7 linked regions of the Homo sapiens genome follow. The protein of the gene in region 6 purifies or fractionates together with the protein of the main gene of each other region. This does not show direct contact. Each region holds a gene or a part of one and is shown on either strand. Other genes may lie near its edges. The genes, in order: PYM1, RNF181, PPIL2, FBLN1, WARS1, CDA and MTMR6.

The links.
Region 1: the proteins of CDA (region 6) and PYM1 purify together in Homo sapiens (affinity purification with mass spectrometry; 2 studies listed by BioGRID and IntAct, with this or other methods). This does not show direct contact.
Region 2: the proteins of CDA (region 6) and RNF181 purify together in Homo sapiens (affinity purification with mass spectrometry; 2 studies listed by BioGRID and IntAct, with this or other methods). This does not show direct contact.
Region 3: the proteins of CDA (region 6) and PPIL2 purify together in Homo sapiens (co-immunoprecipitation; one large-scale study listed by IntAct). This does not show direct contact.
Region 4: the proteins of CDA (region 6) and FBLN1 purify together in Homo sapiens (co-immunoprecipitation; one large-scale study listed by IntAct). This does not show direct contact.
Region 5: the proteins of CDA (region 6) and WARS1 fractionate together in Homo sapiens (co-fractionation; one large-scale study listed by BioGRID). This does not show direct contact.
Region 7: the proteins of CDA (region 6) and MTMR6 purify together in Homo sapiens (co-immunoprecipitation; 3 studies listed by BioGRID and IntAct, with this or other methods). This does not show direct contact.

What each region holds. Positions count from the first base shown.
Region 1 is NC_000012.12:55,900,913-55,903,894, reverse strand, and holds the end of PYM1 (partner of Y14 and mago), read left to right. Parts: intron 1-414; coding exon 415-508; intron 509-1,539; coding exon 1,540-2,023; 3' UTR 2,024-2,482; downstream 2,483-2,982. UniProt on the Homo sapiens protein: Key regulator of the exon junction complex (EJC), a multiprotein complex that associates immediately upstream of the exon-exon junction on mRNAs and serves as a positional landmark for the intron exon structure of genes and directs post-transcriptional processes in the cytoplasm such as mRNA export, nonsense-mediated mRNA decay (NMD) or translation.
Region 2 is NC_000002.12:85,594,553-85,598,208, forward strand, and holds RNF181 (E3 ubiquitin-protein ligase RNF181), read left to right. Parts: upstream 1-1,192; 5' UTR 1,193-1,211; coding exon 1,212-1,297; intron 1,298-1,966; coding exon 1,967-2,097; intron 2,098-2,269; coding exon 2,270-2,379; intron 2,380-2,400; coding exon of another isoform or gene 2,401-2,551; coding exon 2,552-2,626; intron 2,627-2,892; coding exon 2,893-2,952; coding exon of another isoform or gene 2,953-3,013; 3' UTR 3,014-3,156; downstream 3,157-3,656.
Region 3 is NC_000022.11:21,669,012-21,672,511, forward strand, and holds part of PPIL2 (RING-type E3 ubiquitin-protein ligase PPIL2), read left to right. Parts: intron 1-901; coding exon 902-951; intron 952-1,287; exon of another isoform or gene 1,288-1,365; intron 1,366-1,554; coding exon 1,555-1,600; intron 1,601-1,985; coding exon 1,986-2,048; intron 2,049-3,318; coding exon 3,319-3,370; intron 3,371-3,500. UniProt on the Homo sapiens protein: Has a ubiquitin-protein ligase activity acting as an E3 ubiquitin protein ligase or as an ubiquitin-ubiquitin ligase promoting elongation of ubiquitin chains on substrates.
Region 4 is NC_000022.11:45,544,383-45,547,882, forward strand, and holds part of FBLN1 (fibulin-1 isoform D precursor), read left to right. Parts: intron 1-2,702; coding exon 2,703-2,822; intron 2,823-3,500. UniProt on the Homo sapiens protein: Incorporated into fibronectin-containing matrix fibers. May play a role in cell adhesion and migration along protein fibers within the extracellular matrix (ECM).
Region 5 is NC_000014.9:100,351,348-100,354,847, reverse strand, and holds part of WARS1 (tryptophan--tRNA ligase, cytoplasmic), read left to right. Parts: intron 1-281; coding exon 282-401; intron 402-978; coding exon 979-1,161; intron 1,162-3,500. UniProt on the Homo sapiens protein: Catalyzes the attachment of tryptophan to tRNA(Trp) in a two-step reaction: tryptophan is first activated by ATP to form Trp-AMP and then transferred to the acceptor end of the tRNA(Trp).
Region 6 is NC_000001.11:20,602,597-20,606,096, reverse strand, and holds part of CDA (cytidine deaminase), read right to left. Parts: intron 1,170-3,500; coding exon 1,058-1,169; intron 1-1,057. UniProt on the Homo sapiens protein: This enzyme scavenges exogenous and endogenous cytidine and 2'-deoxycytidine for UMP synthesis.
Region 7 is NC_000013.11:25,245,722-25,249,488, reverse strand, and holds the end of MTMR6 (phosphatidylinositol-3,5-bisphosphate 3-phosphatase MTMR6), read left to right. Parts: coding exon 1-257; 3' UTR 258-3,267; downstream 3,268-3,767. UniProt on the Homo sapiens protein: Lipid phosphatase that specifically dephosphorylates the D-3 position of phosphatidylinositol 3-phosphate and phosphatidylinositol 3,5-bisphosphate, generating phosphatidylinositol and phosphatidylinositol 5-phosphate.

The sequences.
Region 1 (2,982 bases), on a different chromosome or scaffold from region 6:
TTGACCTATTTTTTTAAGTTCCATCTAAATAAAATTTCTCCTTTACAACATCCGCTATTGTCATTTCTCCTCCCCGTGGTTTTTGTGTCTTTTTAGCCTCTTGTTCATTTACTGCCTTTCATGTTCCCATGCTATTGCCTTGGTTTTTTAACAAAATTCTTCCTCTGTGCCTATCCTGTCTTACCTACAAATAGAATCTTCTTGAGGGCAAGGATGGTTTCTTGTACGGTGTATTGGCACTCGGTAAATAAATAATGAGAGAGGGATTGAGTGTTGGTATGAGAAAAGGAGCCTAATGGTTGCATTTGGATGAATGGGTGCTGAGAGATGGTATGTACATTTATACATTCTTGTCTCATCTTGTAAAATGTTTGAAAATAAGAGTAATTTTCAACTTGATTTTTCTTATTTTAGGCAAGTATATCGCGTCAACACAGCGACCTGACGGGACCTGGCGCAAGCAGCGGAGGGTGAAAGAAGGATATGTGCCCCAGGAGGAGGTCCCAGTGTACGTGGTTAGGCTTTGCGTAGGGGTTTTCTGATGGGGTCCCTACAGAAGGATAGAATATCCTTATGCCTACAAGTTCAGGGAGGACTCTCCTAAGCCCCAAGGAAATGGAAGGAGGGGCAACTATCTGAGAAAGGAGAGAAAGAGTCTGGGATTCAGGGATGAGTGAGGGTTACAGATCACTAGTCCTATACTTTTGACCTCTGTTCATTAGAACCTCCAGAGCTTTAGGTTCTAGGGACTTCGCTGCATCTTTCCTGCAGAGCAGAGGAAAGTTGGGGAGGGACCATAAAGAGAGAAAGGTGGTCAGGCCCAGTGGCCTACATCTGTAATCTGAGCACTTTGGGAGGCCTAGGCAGGTGGATTACTTGAGGTCAGGAGTTCAAGAACAGCCTCCCCAAAGTGGTGAAACCCCGTCTGTACTAAAAATACAAAATTACAAAATACAAACATCAGCCAGGCGTGGTGGCACGAGCCTGTAATCCCAGCTACTCAGGAGGCTGAGGCAGGAGAATCTCTTGAACCCGGGAAGTGGGAGGTTGCAGTGAGCTGAGATTGCGCCAGTGCACTTCAGCCCTGGCGACAGAGCGAGACTCTGTCTCAAAAACAAACAGGCAGGCGCAGTGGCTCTCTGTAATCCCAAGCACTTTGGGAGGCCAAGATCGGTGGATCACCTGAGGTCAGGAGTTGAAGACCAGCCTGACCAACATGGTGAAACCCCATCTCTACTAAAAATACACAGTTAGCCAGGCGTGGTGGCAGGCGCCTGTAATCCCAGCTACCCGGGAGGCTGAGGCAGGAGAATTGCTTGAACCCTGGAGGTGGAGGTTGCAGTGAGCTGAGATTGCGCCATTACACTCCAGCCTGGGCAACTGAGCGAGACTCTATCTCAAAAAACAAACAACCCCACAAAAACAACAACAAAAAAAGGAAGCAAGAATGTAATGAGGATGAAGTGTTTGGAAGTTTAAGAAAAGGGATCAAAAAGTCAGTAATTCTCTGAAACTCTTGACATCCTTTGTTTCCTGCAGATATGAAAACAAGTATGTGAAGTTTTTCAAGAGTAAACCAGAGTTGCCCCCAGGGCTAAGCCCTGAGGCCACTGCTCCTGTCACCCCATCCAGGCCTGAAGGTGGTGAACCAGGCCTCTCCAAGACAGCCAAACGTAACCTGAAGCGAAAGGAGAAGAGGCGGCAGCAGCAAGAGAAAGGAGAGGCAGAGGCCTTGAGCAGGACTCTTGATAAGGTGTCCCTGGAAGAGACAGCCCAACTCCCCAGTGCTCCACAGGGCTCTCGGGCAGCCCCCACAGCTGCATCTGACCAGCCTGACTCAGCTGCCACCACTGAGAAAGCCAAGAAGATAAAGAACCTAAAGAAGAAACTCCGGCAGGTGGAAGAGCTGCAGCAGCGGATCCAGGCTGGGGAAGTCAGCCAGCCTAGCAAAGAGCAGCTAGAAAAGCTAGCAAGGAGGAGGGCGCTAGAAGAGGAGTTAGAGGACTTGGAGTTAGGCCTCTGAGGCCTTTGGGGAATAGGGAATGGACTGCAGAACAAACCGTGGGGCTCTCTGGGGTCTGGGGGAATACGGGCAACAGCAGTCAGGAGGGGTACCCCCCATACTGGCTTACTTCCACCTCCTGCGGCCCAGCTCTGTCCTCCAGAGCCTAGCGTCTCCCTCAATCCTTCCCTTTTCTTCCCAACTTCTACTTTTTGGACTTTCCCCCTCCCATTCCCAGTGTTCAAAATCTCAGTGACTACCCCAGGTACCTTTGCTGCTGATTTGGGTGTCTTGTTTAAAAGAAAATCAGGTGGGTGGGAATCTCTTGGAGAACTGAGGCTGAGGGTAGAGGGAGTATGCCCAAGTCTTGGAGTCTTGGTTCCTGTTCGCGGTGTTTATGGGTTATTTCCCTCTCCATCCCTCATTTTTTTTTTTTTTTTAAAAAAAGCAAAAATGAGAATAAACACAAGTAGACATGTCTGGCTTTGCCTCCTTATTTTCAGCTCCTAGTAGATATTGTATCTCCTGAGTTTGGCACAGGAAGACAAGTATTGGGAGTGATTTCTTTTCTTTTCGAGACAGAGTTTTGTGCTGTTGCCCAGGTTGGAGTGCAGTGACGTAATCTGGGCTCACTGCAAACTCTGTCTCCTGAGTTCACGCAGTTCTCCTGCCTCAGCCTCCCTCCCGAGTAGCTGTGATTACAGGTGCCCACCACCACACCTGGCTAATTTTTTAGTAGAGATGGGGTTTCACCATGTTGGCCAGGCTGGTCTTGAACTCCTAATTTCAGGTGATCAACCCACCTTGGCCTCCTAAAGTGCTGGGATTTTAGGCATGAGTTACTGTGCCCAGCCGATATATATTTTTTTCTTTTTCTTTTTTTGTGAGATGGAGTCTCGCTCTGTCTGCCAGGCTGGAGTGTAGTGGCGCGGTTTCAGCTCACTGCAACCTCTGCCTCCCGGGTTCAAGCAATTCTCCTG
Region 2 (3,656 bases), on a different chromosome or scaffold from region 6:
CAGGGTCAAGTGTGTAAAATAAGCAGTTCCTTGCTGGGTAAAGTGAGCGCTACTGACAGAAACCAGAATAAGCCTGAGTTGTGTGGAGCTTCACCCCTTACAGAGCGTGTTAGTTTTACTGAGCGCATTAGCGTCTTCCTCTCTTGGGAAAGATGGAGGAAAGCACTTGGCCCTGCAGCTGGTCTGCAACACCACTTACAGACTGCAAATTTGGGCAAGCCACTTCTGAGGTAAAAAGGGCATAATGACGCTTAGCTCCTGGGTCTATTGAGGGGATGATCGAGCGTGTAAAACATACATCAGACTAACAGTTCTAGATGCTAAATAGTACCTATCATCCAAATCATTGAGTGCAGTGGTTCTTAAACCTGCTTCACCTGCATAATTTATACAAGTGCCATTGCCCAGGCCCCACCACAGATCAGTTAAATCAGAATCTTCGAAGGTATCAGACACGGGTGTTTCTAAAGCTCCTCCGCGCCCATTCTCTCCTCTGGGAATTCATGTGTAGCCAGGAATGAAAAGGTCTTAGTACAAGCCAGCAGTTTTACAGAAGCTAGGGATAGCAACGGGCTGAAGGTAACAGTCCCATGAGCTGGTTGAGGCCCCAGGTTCTCCGGCAAAGAGATCTCTCTCAGTTGGGGAGGCTTGCCCCACCCTTTATTATTATGCCTAACACATAAGAAATGCGCAGGAATCAAACGCAAACTGGTGAACCAACTAGAGGGCCGCGGGGGCAGAAGTGTCCGGCGGGGATCCGGACAGCGCATCCGGAAGCGCCATGGGCCAACGCTCGCAGGAACCTGAACCCCTGGGCCAGCGCCGCCTTTGCTCGCAGAGGCCTCTAGCATCTGTACTGTCGAAGCCCTCTGAGCTTCAGGGCAGACTGAAGAGCCTTACACACCAGACACTTGGACGCGATCGCGCCAGAAATCCCCGGGAATTCAGTCTTGGCTCCGACTCCAAAACAAATGATTCCTCACCAGCCAGATCTCCATCATTGGCGTTAGTCTCTGGTCACCTGACTTGTTCAAGCCAATGAGAGGGGGCCGAATTAGTACTTCCGCTTTCCGTGCTGTTTAACGAGCCACTATGCCCGTCCCTCGGATACTCTGATTGGCCAGCCTCTCTCAGCTCGTCAGTTTATTGGCCAGCGCCGCTAGGCCGCTATCGAGCAGGGTCCGAGGGCTGTGTCAGAAGGCTGGGCAGCCATGGCGTCCTATTTCGATGAACACGACTGCGAGCCGTCGGACCCTGAGCAGGAGACGCGAACCAACATGCTGCTGGAGCTCGCAAGGTGGGTGCGCGGGGCTTGGGGATAGGGTCCAACCAGCAGGTTTCTGGGCTGGGGCTGGCTGGAGAAGGCGGATTACCAGGGGCAGCGGATTCTGGGGAGGACAGATGAGTAATCTGGAGTGTTAGTACGGGCGGCGAGACTGAGGGGTGTGGGGATGAGCATCTCGATAATTTGGGCCGTCCGTTGGGCCGGCCTGGGGCAAGGGGATTGCGGGAAAGATTGGAGCTGGAGAGTGGTGGGCGTGGGGGCGGAAGGACAGCAGGCTCTGGGAGGTCTCAGAGAAGGTGAGGCATGGGGGCGGGGTTGGGGCCGTGTGCTGTGAGTGGGTATATTCATCAGTAACAGCAGGCACTGCTGTTACTGGACCTGGAATCTGGCTTGGTCTTGGAATCTGGGCTCTACCAGGTTATTCAGCGTAGCCTGAGTAACTTCTCTGAATCTGTTGCCTCATGTGTAAAATGGGAATAAACACTTTACGTGCTGGGGCGGTCTGATAGCAGTTGTAAACTATTTCCCATCGTGCTTTTTATCTAGTGAGCATCTACTAACTACTAAGGGTAGCTATTATTCCTACTAGCTGGGCAGCGTGTTTATTAATGTCCAGTGGATTATGGGGACAAAGAAAAAGCATAGTTTTCCTTTGTTCTGACTTTACATCCCCTTCCCCAGGTCACTTTTCAATAGGATGGACTTTGAAGACTTGGGGTTGGTAGTAGATTGGGACCACCACCTGCCTCCACCAGCTGCCAAGACTGTGGTTGAGAACCTCCCCAGGACAGTCATCAGAGGCTCTCAGGCTGGTGAGGACACTGATTCTTTCTGCTATTTGGGCCAGACCCACCCCTTCCCCAAGCCAGACTGTGGTCTGGTCCTTCAGTTTTCCAGGTCAGGTGGGGGCAAGTGTCCTTCAGGAGTGGGAGCTTGGGAGGCAGAGCCTGTAGCAGCTCTCCTGATCAGCACTCCTTCCTAAAGAGCTCAAGTGCCCCGTGTGTCTTTTGGAATTTGAGGAGGAGGAGACTGCCATTGAGATGCCTTGCCATCACCTTTTCCATTCCAGCTGCATTCTGCCCTGGCTAAGCAAGGTACTGCTTCTCTTCTTCTAGCTCTCACCGTGCCCTGGGCCCAGTACTCAAGCTTCTTTCTGTTCATGGACTGCTGGGGGATGGAAGAAGAGTGGCAGTTGGGAGCAGGGGAGGGTGGTTATCAGCTTATGAAGATCAGACCAAGGCTAGAACACTACTCTACTTTTCTCAGACAAATTCCTGTCCCTTGTGCCGCTATGAGCTGCCCACTGATGACGACACTTATGAGGAGCACAGACGAGATAAGGTAGGGGCTGATGCTTAAGTGGAGGGGTCGTAATGGGCTCCCTGAGTCCTGTCCCCGCTGCCATCACTTCCCACCTCAGCAGGACTGGGTAGGCCTCAGAATCCCTGGCTCTGGCTGTCTTCTTAGTGACTTTGATTTGTGGTGAGAGCCTCAGCAATGCAGACGCCAGAGGCCTGAAAACAGAGCCAGCCCCATAATAGCTGCCCATCCCCTCACCCATAGGCCTTCAGTTTTGGCCCCTGCCCAGCATGCCTTCTTTCCTTCAGGCTCGAAAACAGCAGCAGCAACACCGACTGGAGAACCTCCATGGAGCCATGTACACGTGAGGAGGTTGGGGCTGAGTGCTGGCCCTCTGCGTCTTCCTTATTAACCTTGAATCCTCATTAAAGGTTTCTTTACCCACCCTGAGGCTGTATTGATCACAGACCTGGCCAGGGGCTCTGCATCCTCCATCAGGTCTCTACTTCTGTTGGGGAAGGTGATCCTAAATCGCAGAAGGCACCAGGCTGCGGTTTTCCTCCCTGCTGGCCCATCTGGACTCATGGCAGTGGTAAAGAACTGGATTACTGCAATAGCCAGGGCTTGGGCCTATGTGTTCATGGTTGGAAGGCAAAATGTGTCAGGGTCTGGTACCCAGTTAATTACTTAAAGCTGATAAACTAGGCTGGGTGCAGTGGCTCATGTCTGTAATGCCAGCAGTTTGGGAGGCCAAGACAGGTGGATCACGAGGTCAGGAGTTCGAGACCTTCCTGACCAACATGGTGAAACCCCGTTTCTACTAAAAATACAAACATTAGCTGGGCATGGTGGCACGCACCTGTAATCCCAGCTACTTGGGAGGCTGAGGCAGGAGAATTGCTTGAACCTGGGAGGCAGAAGTTGCAGTGAGCTGAGATCATGCCATTGCACTCTAGCCTGGGCAACAAGAGCAAAACTCCGTCTCAAAAAAAAAAAAAAAAAAAGCTGATAAACTAGCCTGCACCCTCCTCCCACTGCAATGTCTAGTTAACTTTGTAATCCCACAGGTTTT
Region 3 (3,500 bases), on a different chromosome or scaffold from region 6:
TCTATTTTTTTTTTTTTTTTAGTAGAGACTGGTTTCACCGTGTTAGCCAGAATGGTCTCCATCTCCTGACCTCGTGATCTGCCCGCCTTGGCCTCCCAAAGTGCTGGGATTATAGGCGTGAGCCACCTTGCCCGGCCGGTTTTTTTTGTTTTTTGTTTTGTTTGTTTTTGAGACAGAGTCTCCCCCGTCCCCCAGGCTGGAGTGTAGTGGTGCTGTCACAGCTCACTGCAGCCTCAACCTGCCTTCCTGCCTTAGTCTTTGGAGTAGCTGGGACCACAGGTGTGAGCTGTCACACCTGGCTAAGTTTTAAATTTTCTTGTAGAGACAGATTCTCGCTTTGTTGCCCCAGCTGTTCTCCAACGCCTGGACTCAAGCAATCTTCCTGCCTTGGCCTCCCAAACTGTTGGGATTATAGGTGTGAGCCACTGTGCCTGGTCTCCATGTCTGTTGTGTTTATCACTGTGTGGCTGACATATAGTAGGTGTTTTTTTGTTTGTTTGTTTTTTTGAGACAGAGTCTCACTCTGTCACCCAGGCTGGAGTACAGTGGTGTGATCTTGGCTGACTGCAACCTCCGCCTCCCGGGATCAAGCAATTCTCTGCTTCAGCCTCCCGAGTAGCTGGGATTACAGGCACCCACCACCATGCCCAGCTAATTTTTGTATTTTTAGTAGAGACGTGGTTTCACCATGTTGGCCAGGCTTGTCTTAAACTTCTGACCTCTAGTGATTCGCCTGCCTCGGGCTCCCAAAGTGTTGGGATTACAGGCGTTAGCCACCGTGCCCGCCCCATAGTAGGTATTTAGTAAGCATTTGCTGAGTAAGCAAAGATTACTCACTTCCAAAGACTTCGTCCTCTTTATAAAGGTGGTGGTGGTAGCATTATCTTCCTCTCTTCTTCAGGTACATTACCTGTGCTGAATACACTCACTTTTATGGTGGCAAGAAGCCAGGTAAGGCATGCAGTCTTTCTGTTCCCCGTTGGGGGAGTGGTATTAAGGAACTGTGTCTTCAGGATACAGTGAGCTGTAAAAATAGACAACAAGAACACGGAAACTATGGTAGACGAATGGGCTGAGGACACAGTTCATGAAAGAGAAATATACTCAAGATAGAAGAACCTGCTTCATCTTAGTGGTGATTTTTGTAAAATGTAATTTAAAATATTCCCCGATGCTGGGAGCTAAGTAAAAAATAAATAAGTAAATGAAATACAAAATTACATGTACATTTAAATGTTTTTTCTCTATCAAGTTTATAAGGAATAAAAAGAATGATAATATTTTCAGCTGTCAAAACTATCAAGACTACAATAACAAGAGCACTGTCATAATTTTAATGGAAGTAAAAAGTATGCACTTTTCCCAGTAAGTTCTTTTTTGATGTACCCCAAGTGTTTTGGTTTATCTGTTAAAAGGTTTTTAATCCACAGCAATTGCTGTACTTAAAAATTTGCATGAACTTTTTCATAAGCTGTAACTGAATTGCTAGCAGGTGCACATAGATGAAATACTTTACAGAGTAAGATTTCTGTTTTTTATTTCATTTTTAAACAGATCTCCCACAAACAAATTTTCGTCGTTTACCTTTTGACCACTGCAGGTAAGAGTTTTGCGAGTTTACCTTTCCCTTGTAATTGTTCTCTGATCCTGTCTGATAGTGAATCTGCCCCTTGTGGATGTGGGGTTATGCGTAAAAGTGTGCCTTGAAGATGTGGCCCTTCAGTTCATGTTGGGAGAAGATGCAGAGTCCTCGTCATGATGTTAGGAGCTTGCCTTGGTGTTGGATCCTGCTCTAGACCTTCACCAGGGGTGGCACAAACACTATTGTAGTTGGAGGAGAAGGTTGGTGAGAGAGGGAGGTGGCCAGGCTGCCCAGAGAGGGCTCCCTGGGACAGCATTTCAGGAGGTCACCATGCCAGTCTCAGCCAGCCCACATCCTGACCAGGGTGCGTGGCAACTCACCAGGAATGACTGTCCTTTTTCAGTCTCTCTCTGCAGCCCTTTGTCTACCCAGTCTGCACTCCCGATGGCATCGTCTTTGACTTACTGTGAGTTTTTCCTTGAATTTTGATCTAACAAATGTGAGATTCTCAACACCCATTAAGGAAGGGGACCCTTGGTACCCTTGGGTAGGGCTCTTGGGCACACAGAAGTAACAGCTAGGGCCTTGGGGACATGGCAGCAATGCTGCTGTGACCCTTGGGCAGGCAGCTCTAGTTGTCAGGTACTGCTGTCACTGCCTGGAATGGGGTAGACCACCCCCTACCCCTCCAAGTGCAGGCATGAGCCACTGCACCTGGCCTGAAAATGAATTTTTAGGAAATTTCAGCCTTATTTTAGAAAAAGAAAATTTTACCACAGTCCCACTATCCAAGATAACCACTGTAAATATGCTAATTTTTTGTGAACTTATTTGTAGTAACATGATTGAGATAACACTGTGAACACTGTGAAGTGTTGACAGGTAACACTCTGTGGATCTATTTATTCACTTGGTTGTGATGAGAGCTTTTTTCCCCGTGTGATTCAGAATTCTCTGAAAGTATAGTTTTTCTTTGTTCTTTTCTTTTTTTTTTATTTGAGACAGGGTCTCACTATGTTGCCCAGGCTGGTCTTGAACTCCTGCGCTGAAGCAGTCCTTCCACCTCAGCCTCCTGAGTAGCTGAGATTTCAGGCACACACCATCACCATGCCTGGCTTGAAAGTATAGTTTTTGATGCTAGCTTAGTATTTAATTATACAGATGTATCAACATTTATGACGGAGTGGTGGCTTATGTCTGTAGTCCCAGCACTTTGGGAGGCTGAGGCAGGAGGATCTCTTGAACCCAGGAGTTTGAGACCAGCCTGGGCAACATGGTGAGAACCTGTGTCTACAAAAAAGTGCAAAAATTAGCCAGCCATGGTGGTGTGCACCTGTAGTCCCAGCTACTTGGAAGCTGAGGTGGGAGGATCGCTTGAGCCCAGGGGTTGGAGGCTGCAGTGAGCCATGACTGAAACACTGCACTCCAGCCTGAGTGACAAGGCGAAACCTTGTCTCAAAGAAAAAAAACCCAAACCATTTACTTACTCATTTTCACCTGTAGTTTTTGTTGTTTATACATAACTACAGTAATAACTCTGAACATATTTTGAAACCTATGTATCCACAAATATCCCCCAACTTCCTGAGACAAGATGAGGAGCTCTTCCTCTCCTAAAGTGAAGCAAGACCCCTTCACAGGCCTCTAACCTGGAAGCAGCCCTGCAAGACCACAGTGTTGTTACCAGGTGGCGCCTAAGCACCCTGGTGATGCTTTCTGTTCTGTCTTCCCTTCAGGAACATTGTTCCATGGCTTAAGAAGTACGGGACCAACCCCAGCAATGGAGAGGTAGGTGGCTGTGCAGGAGTTTCAGTGATGCTAGTGAATGCTATCCTCTCACTTCTCCTTTTGTTCTGGTGGTTTTCATGAACACAGGAACATGGGAGAGAACCGTTCATGGGGCCCAGTGAGGAGGGAC
Region 4 (3,500 bases), on a different chromosome or scaffold from region 6:
GGCCTGCCTCTAACTTCGTGTTGGAGTTAGGCTTTCCCCACCCGCAGAGACAGGGAGAAGCACCCTGGCCTTCCGGATGACGACATTCCCCAGGCATGTCCCCAGCCCTTGAGAAAGACACTCCTTGGTTGCACATCTCAAAGGGACAGAGAAACCGTTTACATTTGCAAGTTTTTCTAAAGTAGATGCTTCTAAGGAACATGGAGGTCAGCGCCTGTAGTCAGGTTTGGGCTGGAACCAAGAGAAAATTCTTTTGGCAGCATTGATCTTTCTCAGACAGGCATGTCAAGGGGGCTGGGTCTACATCCTGGATACCTGGTCTTGGGCCAATGGCAGCCACGCTGAAGTTGGGTCAGGTCTCTTGGTATGTGGGGGTTGGACAGAGTTGTTCCTGCCAACAGTCTTGTGGTTCTCAGATAACACCAACCTCCTGGGCTGATGGGAAGGTCACATGAACTGCATGTCAGCCCAGGGCCTGGCACATACTAGGTGCTTGGCAGATGTCGTGTCTTGTATACGGATTAGGTTCTGAGCTGAGCAGACACTGAGAGCTTTGGATGGCCCTCCACAATCGTCCACATTGCCGATGACACCCTGTTTGGTGCCGTGCACTGGCTCACAGGACGGCTTCTGCAGCCTGACTCAAACATGGCAGGTCCTAACATTTTGCCATGAGAATTTTCCTTCCTGATGAGATGGTCGCAGGGGTTGGATATGCCACAGTGAGCTGTGGTGTGCATGATTCTCAAATCGGAGGACGGACGGTGTGAGGGGTCCTGGGCTTAGTTCACAAGAACGTGTATGGACAAGGAACAAGATTCACGAGTTGAGTCTCTCAGGCTTGTGTTCAAACCTGACTTCTGCCATTTCCATGGCCTTGAAGAAGTAACTCAGTCTTTCCTGGGCCATGGTGTCCTCATCTGTAAAACGGGCATAGTAGGACCAACCCCATAGGGGGTTGTGAGGATGAAACGAGATTAAGCATGTGAAGAGCTTATCACAGGGCCAAGCACAGGATGAAGAGCTGGCGGTGTGGAGGCTGCTGGCTTTATTATTATTTAGTAGAAGTAGTGGGATTCCTGGCTTGTGCTTCCTCTAGTCATTCATAAATTGCTGAAAAGTCGGCATTCATATCCACATTAGTGGACAATATTGTGGATATAGAACCAGAGCCTGGCCAACCTTGCTATGTGACCTTACTAACCATTTGTTAGGGTCCTGCCCCGGGTGTGTAGCAAGAACTCGGTCCTGCACTGGGGAGTGTCTCTAGCGGGGGATGAGAGACCACACTGGACAGGTGGAGGCCAGGCCTGGTGTGTGGGGGCCACAGAGATGAAACACGGGGTGGAAGGCTATTGGACGTTCTGTGACAGCCACATAGTATAGATTTAAGGCTTTTCCAGCCACAATCTCTGTTGCAACCGCTGAACTCTGCTGTGGTAGCAGAGAAGTGGCCAGAGGACCATGGTAAAAGAATGAGTGTGGCAGGGCACAGTGGCTCACACCTGTAATCCCAGCACTTTGGGAGGCTGAGGCAGGTGGATTACTTGAGGTCAGGAGTTCGAGACCAGTATGGCCAACATCGTGAAACCCTGTGTCTACTAAAAATACAAAAATTAGCCGGGCATGGTGGTGCACACCTGTAATCCCCCAGCTACTCAGGAGGCTGAGGCAGGAGAACTGCTTGAATTCATGTCCACATTTAGTGGACAATAGCCTCCCGGAGGTGGAGATTGCAGTGAGCTGAGATTGAGCTACTTGTACTCCAGCCTGGGCGACAGACAAAGACTTTGTCTCAAAAAAAAAAAGAGTGAATGTGGCTGTATTCTTTATTTTATTGTTATTATTATTTTGAGACGGAGTCTCGCTCTGTCGCCCAGGCTGGAGTGCAGTGGTGTGATCTTGGCTCACTGCAACCTCTGCCTCCTTGTTCAAGCAATTCTCCTGCTTCAGCCTCCCGAGAAGTTGTGACTACAGGTGCGTGCCACCATGCCTGGCTAATTCTTGTATTTTTAGTAGAGATGGGTTTCATCATGCTGGCCAGGCTGGTCTCGAACCCCTGACCTCGTGATCCGCCCACCTCGGCCTCCCGAAGTGCTGGAATTACAGGCATGAGCCACCATGCCTTGCCGGGCTGTGTTCTAATAAAACTTTATTTATAAAAACAAGTGTTGGGACAAATTTGGCCCATAGACTATGATTTGCTGACCTCTGCTTTAGGTAAAGGGGACAGTTGAGCAGTAGTTCAGAGTTGCTGAGTGGCCCAGTGAGTTCTGTGCATTGGAGTATGAGGAGTACTGGCGTATGGGCTGGGTGGCCGAGGACTTCCTTGTGTGCCGTCATCTGTTTAGGATGCCATCTTGGAGGTGAAGTGGAGAGCACAGGATCAGATTTCCATTTGAGAACTAGAATGGACTCTGGCAGCCAGGTCGGGGCAGACTTCCAGGGGCCAAGGCTGGAGGCGATCGCTGCCATCCTGGCAGGAGAAGTTGTGGTCGAAGCAGGCAGGAGCAGGGATGGAGGGTCCGGAGCCACCAGCGATGACGCCTCTCCCTCGGCCACACCCCCCGGGACCTCTGTCTCTCCGAGTGTGTTAACCTGAGGGAGGTGGAGAGGAGATTTTCTGTTCACTGACCCTGAGGGCTACTGTGGAGGCAGGGACGTATGATGCTCTGAGCGGTGACCCTCGTTTTGTATTTCAGACATCAATGAGTGCAGCAGCAGCCCCTGTAGCCAGGAGTGTGCCAACGTCTACGGCTCCTACCAGTGTTACTGCCGGCGAGGCTACCAGCTCAGCGATGTGGATGGAGTCACCTGTGAAGGTGCGGACGCCCCTGCCTGCTGAGGGGGAAAGCACCCCCTGGTCTTGCCATGACACAGCAGCACGGCCTCTGACTTTCAAAATCCACAGGGAAGAGCCTGCTGGGATTTCTTCACCTGACAAACCTTCCATGTCCACCCTTGGAGGCAAGCGGGTGGTTTGCTGTTTTCCCTCCAACTGAGGTTTTTTTTTTTTTTTTTTTTTTTTTTTGAGACACGGTCTTGCTCTGTTGCCCAGGCTGGAGTGATATGGTGCAATCACTGCTCACTGCAGCCTCAGCTTCCCAGGCTCAAGTGATCCTCCCACCTCAGCCTCCCAAGTAGTTGGGACCATAGGTGTATACCACCATGCCTGGCTAATTTTTTATTTTTAAAAAATTAGAGACGGGGCCTTGCTGTGTTGCCCAGGCTGGTCTCGAACTCCGTGGCTCAAGTGATCCTCTTGCTTCAGCCTCCCAAATTGCTGGGATTACAGGCATGAGCCACCGTGCCTGGCCCCCAACTGAAATTCTAATATACTTTTCCCATCCTTAAGCGTGAGGGTGGGAAGGCAGCAAACCACTCCTGACTTGTTCTTTAATAAATGTGCACGGCGGTAATTACAACATGCACTGGGACCTTGGGCCGCATATCTCAGGTCTTGGTGGTGGTGCATGGCTGAGAGGTAAGGAGGGGGCTCA
Region 5 (3,500 bases), on a different chromosome or scaffold from region 6:
TTGGAGGGATTCCAGGAGTCCCAGTAACTGCATAGCTGGATCCATCTTTTAAACACATTATTCCAAACCTACACATCTTGTCTTTTAAAACACTCACAGGAGAAACCATTTCAGTAGAAGTTTCCTGTCTATATTTATATCATAAGCACCAAAGGTAACAAATTCTAGTTATTATCCATGTTGTTTCGTCTCTGTCTATATTTTCCATTTCCAAAAGTGCATTAGTGCCTTGATATTTTTCTCAGAAAATCACACTCTTCCTCTTCTCCTTTTTCCTTTAGAGATATGAATCAGGTTCTTGATGCCTATGAAAATAAGAAGCCATTTTATCTGTACACGGGCCGGGGCCCCTCTTCTGAAGCAATGCATGTAGGTCACCTCATTCCATTTATTTTCACAAAGTAAGTATTGGATCTTATGGCTTTTCTTACTCTCTTAGTGAATTGAGAATGTTGCTTATAAACCATGTTTAGAACTGACAAGATCATGCTAGTTCATTTGCTGAGCAACCAAGATGTCAAGAGTTGGCACTTTTTTGGCTTCCATTCACTTTGTTCCTGGGCTCACTTTAGAGGACCATGGAGTGATGGGGAGAGCGCAGCTTTGGAGTCAGCCAGGCCTGCTCCTCTTCTCATCCTGCTCCCTGTCTGCATGGCCATGGGCCTGCTACTTCTCTGAGCCTAAGTTTCCACATCTGCAAGATGAGAATGAAGATACCTACCTCATAGAACTACTGTAAAGCTTCAAAACAAAGTGTGTAGAGCAGCTAACACAGAGCACACAGGGCCACCTGGTCGATAAATGGTAGTAGACCTTATCATTATCCATAGTCAAATTCATATCACAATTCAAATTGTGATTTTGTAGGCAAGGAAGTTTTAACATACGTTGTAAGTAGGAGCTGTGTTTTCAGATGCACGATGGCGTTCCTCCACAGGGGAGATGAGACGTCAGCTTTCTCCCCCTGTGTTTCTTTAGGTGGCTCCAGGATGTATTTAACGTGCCCTTGGTCATCCAGATGACGGATGACGAGAAGTATCTGTGGAAGGACCTGACCCTGGACCAGGCCTATAGCTATGCTGTGGAGAATGCCAAGGACATCATCGCCTGTGGCTTTGACATCAACAAGACTTTCATATTCTCTGACCTGGACTACATGGGGTAAGGAGAAAACGTCTGGCTGCCTTTTCAATAGGTAGAGGAGGATGTCAAGTTGTCATGACCACAGCTAAATTCGAAACAACTGAAATGGTCTTAAGGCCTAGTAAATGTTCTTCTTCCTTTATTAAATGCTATGAGTGGCCAGCCATGGTGGCTCACACCTGTAATCCCAGCACTTTGGGAGGCCGAGGTGGGCGGGTCACGAGGTCAGGAGTTCAAGACCAGCCTGACCAACATGGTGAAACCCATCTCTATTGAAAATACAAAAATTAGTTGGGTGTGGTGGCACGCACCTATAAGCCCAGCTACTCAGGTGGCTGAAGCAGGAGAATCGCTTGAACCCGGGAGGTGGAGGTTACAGTGAGTTGAGATCACGCCATTGCACTCCAGCCTGGGCAACAGAGCGAGACTCCATCTCAAAAAGGAAAAAAAAATGCTATGAGCTGGTTTATTGGTTTTATTTACCAATAATTTTGAAAGTGAAAAGCTGTGTATGTACATAGAAAGGATTAAGTGATATCAGTATCTTAAAGACTCGATTATTGTCTCCATAATTACATTTACAGAAATTTAAAATATGGGCTCAGCCACAGCATGATGGCATCTCAGATCTTCATCCTCAGCTGTGCCAGGAAGTCCTGCCTTGCAGTTTCTTGCCAAGGATAGTCAGTCTTCCAGAGTTATGTCTTCCTCCTTTTCAACGCACCTTTTCCTCACAGAGAAAAGACTCAGTGGTTACACAGTTTCCTCAGTCTAGTTCTTTTAATCAGCCATTTAATAAACCAAAATATTTCATTCTGAAAATCCTTCAAGTTTCATCCCAAATGATTACCAAGAAATGTGTTAGAAAAATAAGACTTTGGTCAACCATCACAAGAAGGATACTATCTAGCTCAACAAATATTTCTTGAGCACCTGAGTTGTGGTACTCCCCTAAGGTGAGATACTCTTCTAAGTCATAGTACTCCCCTAAGGCGTGGTCTCTCCTAAGGCATGGTACTCCCCTAAGGCATGTTACTCCACTCCCCAAAGACGTGTTACTCCTCCCCTAAAGTGATTCCCCAGGAGGAGTGGGTTCATTGCTATGCTCCTGCAGCCCAGGCTGGGCTCTGAGCAGGCCCTCCCATGTTAGCTCACCATCAGGGACCATGCCGAGGCAGGATAAGAGGGACACTAAAGGGGCAGGTGAGCAGTGAGCACAGGAGGACTTGCTTAGAGCCGCATCCCCAGAACGTTCCCTCTTATAAGACCTTAAAACTGAGTAGTGGCAGCCAGGCGCGGTGGCTCATGCCTGTAATCCCAGCACTTTGGGAGGCTGAGGTGGGTGGATCACAAGGTCAGGAGGTCAGGAGTTCGAGACCAGCCTGGCCAATATGGTGAAACCCCATCTCTACTAAAAACACAAAAATTAGCCGGGTGTGGTGGCGTGCTCCTGTAGTTGCAGCTACTTGGGAGGCTGAGGCAGAAGAATCGCTTGAACCTGGGAGGCGGAGGTTGCAGTGAGCCGAGATCATGCCACTGCATTCCAGCCTGGGCAACAGAGTGAGACTCTGTCTCAAAAAAAAAAAAAAAAAAAAAGAAAGAAACTGAGTAGTGGTTTTATATCCATTGAGAGCAATGTATACCCTGATAGGAAATCTCGCCCTTCTATCAGCCAGTAAAACTGTTAGCTTTTTCTTTTTCTTTTTTTTTTTGAGACGGAGTCTCGCTCTGTCACCCAGGCTGGAGTGCAGTGGCACAATCTCGGCTCACTGCAAGCTCCGCCTCTCAGGTTCACACCATTCTCTTGCCTCAGCCTCCCAAGTAGCTGGGACTACAGGTGCCCGCCACCATGTCCGGCTAATTTTTTGTATTTTTAGTAGAGACGGGGTTTCACTGTGTTAGCCAGGATGGTCTCGATCTTCTGACCTCATGATCTGCCTGCCTCGGCCTCCCAAAGCACTGGGATTACAGGCATGAGCCACCACGCCCAGCACCTATTAGATCTTTTAAAATTACTTCTCTTGGTTCAGCCATGTGAGCATGGAGGCCCTGTGGCATCCTTGAAGGAAGGAAAATAGACAGGGATCCAGATCCTGGCACCTGGGTTTAGTGGCTGTGTGTCATAGCAGCCGTGTCCATGAAATGGGATCAAACAAGAACATAGATGTCATCATTAGCATAATTTTCTTTTTTTTTTTTTTTTTTGAGACAGAGTCTCACTCATGGGTTTTGCCATGTTGGCCAGGCTGGTCTTGAACTCCTGACCTCAAGTGATCCTCCCCGCCTCAGCCTCCCAAAGTGCTGCGATTACAGGTGTGAGCCACCATGCCCAGCCGTGTTAGTATAATTTTCATGGC
Region 6 (3,500 bases):
CTTTACTTACTCAGAAACAAATTAAGCTGGGTCTCCTTGGGGCCAGACTGAGGCAAAGTGTAGGATCTTATAAAAGGCACGTGGGCTTGCTTCTGTGCAGTCCCCACTGGCCTTGCACTAAACCCAGCTTTCAGTATTCCTTTTTTGTTATTCAAACAATACAGAACCTATAAGTAAGCCAAGAGAATCCAATGGTACAACACTGTGATAATTACTTGCCGGTGAAGACCTTTCCAAACTGTTCTCAATGCTTTTTTGTTTTGTGTTGTTTTTGAGACAGGGTCTCACTCTGTCCCCCAGGCTGGAGTGCAATGGCATAATCATGGCTCATTCCAGCCTCGAACTCCCAGGCTCAAGTGATCCTCCTGCCTCAGCCTCCCAAATAGCTGGGACTATGGGCATGCCACCATCAGCAAAAAAAAATTTTTTTTTTTTTTGAGACGGAGTCTTGCTCTGTCGCCCAGGCTGGAGTGCAGTGGCGCCATCTCGGCTCACTGCAAGCTCTGCCTCCCAGGTTCACACCATTCTCCTGCCTCAGCCTCCCAAGTAGCTGGGACTACAAGCATCCGCCACCACGCTCAGCTAATTTTTTTGTATTTTTAGTAGAGACGGGGTTTCACTGTGTTAGCCAGGATGGTTTCGATCTCCTGACCTCGTGATCTGCCCATCTTGGCCTCCCAAAGTGCTGGGATTACAGGCGTGAGCCACCGCGCCTGGCTCAGGTTCCCCCCGCTTTATGTTTCAATGCTGCCTTTCTGTTATATCTTGTAGGACAGGAGTCTGTATCACGTTGTGTTGCTGGAACAGGGGCATACTGGCCCTTGTATGAGAGTTGCCTTGCTTATTTACCTGCTTTGCAGGCTCACTGAGGGCAAACTCCATTTCTTATTTATCTCCTTATCCTCAGCACTCATCCCAGGGCCCTGTACAGTGCCTGGCACATAGGAAGTCCACAATAAACATATGTCAGATGAATGAATGAATGAATAATATGTGTAAGGAAGATGTTGGCTAAAGAGATGAATGAATATTGTTGCAACCTGGCTTTCCCACTCACCTGGCGATAGCAATTGCCCTGAAATCCTTGTACCCTTCTGAGACGGCCTTCTGGATAGCGGTCCGTTCAGCACAGATGCCCAGCGGGTAGCAGGCATTTTCTATGTTGCACCCTGAGAAGAGAGCAGAGTCCAGTGGTATGTCTGGCAGAGACACTTCCTGTTGCGTGTGTTGAGTAAGAAGTTTGCCCCATTCCAAAGCAGGAAGGAACTGGTTACTCCAAACAAGGTGGGGAGAAGGACAGGGCAATTAGGGCAATTCGACCTGGGGCACTGGTAGATTCTTTGGCCCATGGTAGTGGCCCTTCCCAAGAACCTGGCACTGTCTTAATTTACCCAATGCCTCCATGATGAAGCACAGCCTGGGAGCAGGGCAGCACAACAGGCAGATTAGGCAGCTCCATCACCCCTGCAGAGGTCAAGGCCAGGGTAGATCCCGAGGCTTACAAAAATAAGTAGAGCCCCCACACCTGCATCTAAGAGATCTAAGAGCCCCATGGTCTGAATGTGTCCCATCAAATTCATATGTTGAAATCCTAGCCCCCAAAGTGATGGTATTAGGAAGTGGGGCCTTTGGAGGAATGATTAGATAATGAGAATGGAATGAAGGGGACCAAGCCTAGGAATGGGAGTCATGCACTTATAAAACCAGAGAACTGCCTTGCCCCATCTGCCGCATGAGGACATAGCAAGGAGTCACCGTCTATGACTAAGCAGGCCCTCACTGAATCTGCCAGTGCCTTGAACCCTGGACTTTCCAGTCTCCAGAACTGTGAGCAATACATTTCTGTTATTTACAAGCTACCCAGTCTATGGTATTCTGTTATAGCAGCCTGAATGGACTAAGACAGATCCTGATTCCAAGTTTGAGCCTGGACAAAATTTTGGGGGTTAGGTACTGGCTGTCAGAGTTCAGCCAGGGTTCTGTGTCAGTTGTGTTGCAAAACAAACACACTGTCAAAACCAACTAACAACGAAATCAATTAACAAACAAACAAAAAAAACACCTCGAGCTTTGTGCGAGTTGCCTGTGATTTCACAAGACTTAAAACAATCCTCGGGCCTCCAGTGGGATGTGGGCTCCTAAGATGGCCCAGCTCTCAGTAAGGGAGTCCTTCCTGTTGGCTCTCTCAGGGTTGTTGCTGGGGGACAATAAGCCAAGGCTGCTCCTAGGAGGCAAGATGTTGGCATAACCAGATTGGCTAAGAAAGTCCCCATATTCAGGGAAGTGAGTCTACGAACAAATCACTATGGGAGCTGGGTTTTCCCCTGACCAGCAAGATGTGGTATTCCATCTGTATCACTGTTTGTAAATTGCCTTTTTCCCTGAGGCGGAGATAGGAGTTGTTCCCCAGTATTCATTTCCTATTTCTTCCTTTAAGTAATACAAGTGCCTCCCATTCCAGCATGGCCGCTCAGCTAGGGACTGTAATTCCCAGACTCCCTTGCAGCACAGTGTGGCCACATGATGCAGTTCTGGCCAATGGGATGTGGCCCAAGGTGATGTGGGAAATTTCTGGATCATACTTTTGGTAAGGAGGTTGCTTGCCTGTTACTTCCATTCTTTTCTCCTTCCACAGACTGGAAGGTGGAGGTGATGGGGTGGGACACTTTTGACTGCGTGGCCAAGGGAATGGAGGAGCAGCAAGGAGAGAGAAGGAATTTGGAAACCTGGTCAACTCATGGGGCAGAGTTGCCCGTTTGCCTGGGGCCTACTCTGAATTGTTGTGTGAGAGAAAAAGAGAATTCCACCATGTTTATATCACTGCATCTTGGAATCTGTTTGTTATAGTAGCATAACCTATGTCTAATACAGACATTTGTGCTGAAGGTGAGATGCAACTTGAACAAAAAAAATCTAAAGTATGTGACATTGGCTTAGTGGTTGAGCAACGCAAAGGAGAAAACACAGATGAGGCAAGATGGCCAGATGGTGACTCCTCCTAGTCTGTTATTTGGTAAAGCTCCACCTGCAATAACCAGGAAGGCAGGCCGTGGTACCCACCACTGAAATTTCTCTCCCTGGCAATGGGAATCAGCCCTGTGGCAAAGATGTGATGTGTCATCTGCCCACACAGCCTGTTGTTTCAGGCACCACAATAGCCAGCATTAAGATGGGGCAGCAGGAATGGGCCAGGCATGGGAGCCAGTTAGGAAAATGCCAGAGTTGGCAGGCTTCAGAACCATGTCCAGAAGGGATCTCTGGGTGTGGCATTTCTGTATGGAAATAATTGGAAGCAAATAGATCAGGATGTTTCCAACTTTTGATAGAATTGGATCGCCAAAGAAGCCACAAGCCTGGCCTATAAAAACACATGATGAGGCTGGGCATGGTGGCTCAAGCCTATAATCCCAGCACTTTGGGAGGCCAAAGCGGGCGGATCACAAGGTCAGGAGTTTGAGATCAGCCTGGCCAATATGGTGAAACCCTGTCTACTAAAAATA
Region 7 (3,767 bases), on a different chromosome or scaffold from region 6:
TTAAACAACGCAAAAATAAGCAAACAGATGGCATCCTCACCAAGGAATTGTTACATTCAGTTCATCCTGAATCACCTAACCTCAAAACTTCCCTGTGTTTTAAAGAGCAGACTCTGCTACCCGTAAATGATGCTCTTCGAACTATAGAGGGCAGCAGCCCGGCAGATAATCGTTATAGTGAATATGCAGAAGAGTTTTCTAAATCAGAACCTGCTGTGGTCAGCTTAGAGTATGGTGTGGCAAGAATGACTTGTTAGACTCATAGAGTTTTTTCTGCAATGATTGCAGTACAAGAAAAGGATTATTGTGAGGATGGTCTGTAAGCATAACCAAAAGGAATTTGTCTAATAACAATTTTAGGGTTTAACAGTAGGCTAATAGTTGAAGGAAGGATAATAACTACCCTTGTGAGAGAAATAAGTCATTTTAATTGCATTTCCAGCAAGGAATGACATTCAGTTCTGTAAGAAATGAGTGGTATTTGATGTATTTACTCAAAACACAATTTGCACTGTACACTAGTGAATTGACGTTTATGATTTATGTTAATTCAGCCAAACATAAATAACCTTCCTTAAGTACAATTTAACTTCAAGAAAACAAAATTTGACAACATAGTTTCTTAATAAATGATATGGCATGTACTTTCAATTATGTAGCTTTGTAACTATGAATATTTACATATTTTGCCTTTTAGTGATATTTAATGTTAAAGTGCCATGAAAAATATTTCTAAGAAAGCCTTAAATTCCCAGTGGATTCTTTACCCTTAAGTTTTACAGCCTACAACAAGATTTTTTGTTTTGTTTTTCTTCTGGTCAGCCTTGTTTTGTTTGTAAAGAATTGTGCTCTCATTACTGCTGGGGGTGCATGCTACAATACTTCTATATAAACACTTGTAGAAGTACACTGTTCACGTTTAGCCTGCCCCACTTTTGTATTCAAAATTAATGAAACTGAAGGTTTATTCTGATCATAATTTGTTTAGTGCTACATTTGATAATTTATTATTTACAGCTTAGAATATTGATTTCTTGAATACGTATAAGCACATTTGACTGTCTTTTATATATGGATTACTGCATTCCATTGATTCTTATTTTGTGGTTGGCTTTATTTCTTTCACAACTGTGTAAGTTTAAAGAGCTAAAGCTCTAAAACTGTTCTGAGAAACAATGAATAGTACATGTATATGTATATTTTTAAACTGCCTTATTGCTCAATGAGTTGCTGTTCCTGGAGTATCTAACTTTCAGTTTACTCAAAAACTTTTGGGTAAATAAAAAAGGGAAGTACAGATAGTTTAGGTTGTGCATGGTTGCATGAATTTTGAAGTCATTTCTATGTGGAGCATTATTTTTCTTCTTGTTAAATATAGAAAAAAAAAGAGATTCTAGTACAAAGTTACTGTTTAACAAAAGCAACATAAACTCTGGGAAAGATTTCATTTTGCCATGTTATATTTACTGTTTATTCTGTGTACTAGTACATATCTTTAAATTACCAAAAAACAAGAAACAAAACATAAAAACCCCAAAACTATCACTTGGAATTAGCAATATCACCCAACTGGCTTTAAAATTGAAAATTTAAATAACATGGTGGCATGAAGTACAATTCGAGTATTAGGCAATTTGCATAGTGTTCCTCATGCTACTTTCTGTTACACCTCTATTATATTAGTTTTGAATATAAACATCTTTTTCAGACCAAAAAAAACTTTATTGTATGAGAGCTTATCTTATCCTGTTTATTTTTCCAATGCTTTTCTGTAATACATTATGTAATTTAAAAAATATTCCTTTTTAAACAGCAACAGAAATGCACTATAAAATATAGTATGTGATTAACCAATCCTGCTTCCATATTTAAGCACTGGGAATGGAAACTTAATCTCTGTGACTACAAAGGGAAGTTTTTGTGCCTTGGTGTTCCAGTCACTGATTGTGGTTTTAGAATCTTCTGTGGCTGACTTCTTGTATTCAACTCTGGTTTATTATCTTAATCTTCAACTTCAGACATATATTTGTGTGTTTATATGCTCACAGGTGGACTGAGAAATCAGTTACATCTTAAGTGACCTACAGGGTATATGTTGGCAAAAGCAGACTGTGTATATGTCTTATAAAGTTGAATTTATGTTCAGTGTGTTTGGAAGTGTATAGCATGTAAATTACTTCATATATGATTTAAAGGTAATTAAATGTTCACATTTTACTTTGAATGTTTTTCTTCTGGATAAAACAAATGGAATCAAGTTGTAGTTGTTTTTTTTTTCTTCTCACCTAGGCAAGTAGACTTGCCCATTACATTAACATAACAGCATAAGGTTTGAGGAGTTTATTTTCCAAAAGTTTGTTGATAAATAATACCTGTTTCATACAAAAATAATTTCCAGAATATTTAAAATAGGTATAGTGGGCTAAAAGGCCCATCAGATGTAGGTAATAATGTCATTAAGTTTTCATTTTGTTCCTGTCACTTGCTTATATTACAATCACTATTTTTTTGTGCCCTTGCCAACTTGATGGAAGGCAGGGTCCATTGAGTACAAACATTCGAGGTGAAATGTCTCTCCAAAGGCAGATCTGGATGTAAATATGAGGAAGAAAATAACTGGCTGACAAGAGGATAATTTTATTGAGGGTGTTTTGAAAAGGTCAGCTAGGCTAGAAGTAGCTCAGGGAATCTTGAGTAAAGATGAAGGGAACTCTTTTAAAACAAATTCAATTTATTTGGTCGGGTAGCAGAGCAGGGAGGTGGTGTCAGTCAAGCCTGTTTTGAAACATTTTTTGCAGAAGGTCAGCTTTAAAATATTGAAAAATTTCCAGTTGACATGCTAAGTTGGATTAAATGCTGATCATTTATAAAACTATATAGTTGCTGCAAAAGTAATTGGGGCTTTTGCCATTGAAAGTGATGACAAAAACCGCAATTACTTTTGCACCAACCTAATACTACAGTTGCAGACTTTTATTAGTGACGCTGATCTTCATTAGTCAAGTTTTAGTTATTTTGTTGGCTTTTCCATGTAGAATTCCAAGTGACATTAACATACTTTGATTAATTAAAGAAAATTTGGAGACTGTTTAAGATATATGTCTAGATATCAATGTAAACTATAAGCTTTAGGAACTTACATCTAGAAGAAAGCCTGGAATCTAGAATAATTATCTCAAAAAAAAGTATATATACCATTGTACTTGATATAAGAAAATGTAAACATGAAACCTTGACATTTTAATAAACAGTATTTGTGCTACTCTAGTTATTTCTAGGAAAGTAAAATATCCATTTAAATGGCAACTTTTATAAAATAGTGGCCTGCATAACTGAAAGGAACTTTCAGAAGCTAGTAGTAGACTCTATAGCCCTGGTGTTCAGTTTCTGATTCAGTAGTTAGGGGTTGGGACTCTGGAGTTAAAATCATTTGCATACCAATAAATTGTTTGCACTTAGCAATATTTTGGATATTGTGATGCAAATGGTTGGGGAATCATACTTTGAGAAACACTGCTGTAAACCACCCATCATGGTCAGTAAACATCTTGTTTGTTCTTAAAGGGATGCCGAATTATTCTTTTTTTTTTTTTTTTTTTTTTTTTTTTGAGACGGAGTTTCACTCTTGTTTCCCAGGACAGAGTTAAAGTGGCACAATCTTGTCTCACCACAACCTCCGCCTCTGGGTTCAAGTGATTCTCCTGCCTCAGCCTCCGGAGTAGCTGGGATAACAGGCATGCACCACCACACCGGGCTAATTTTGTTGT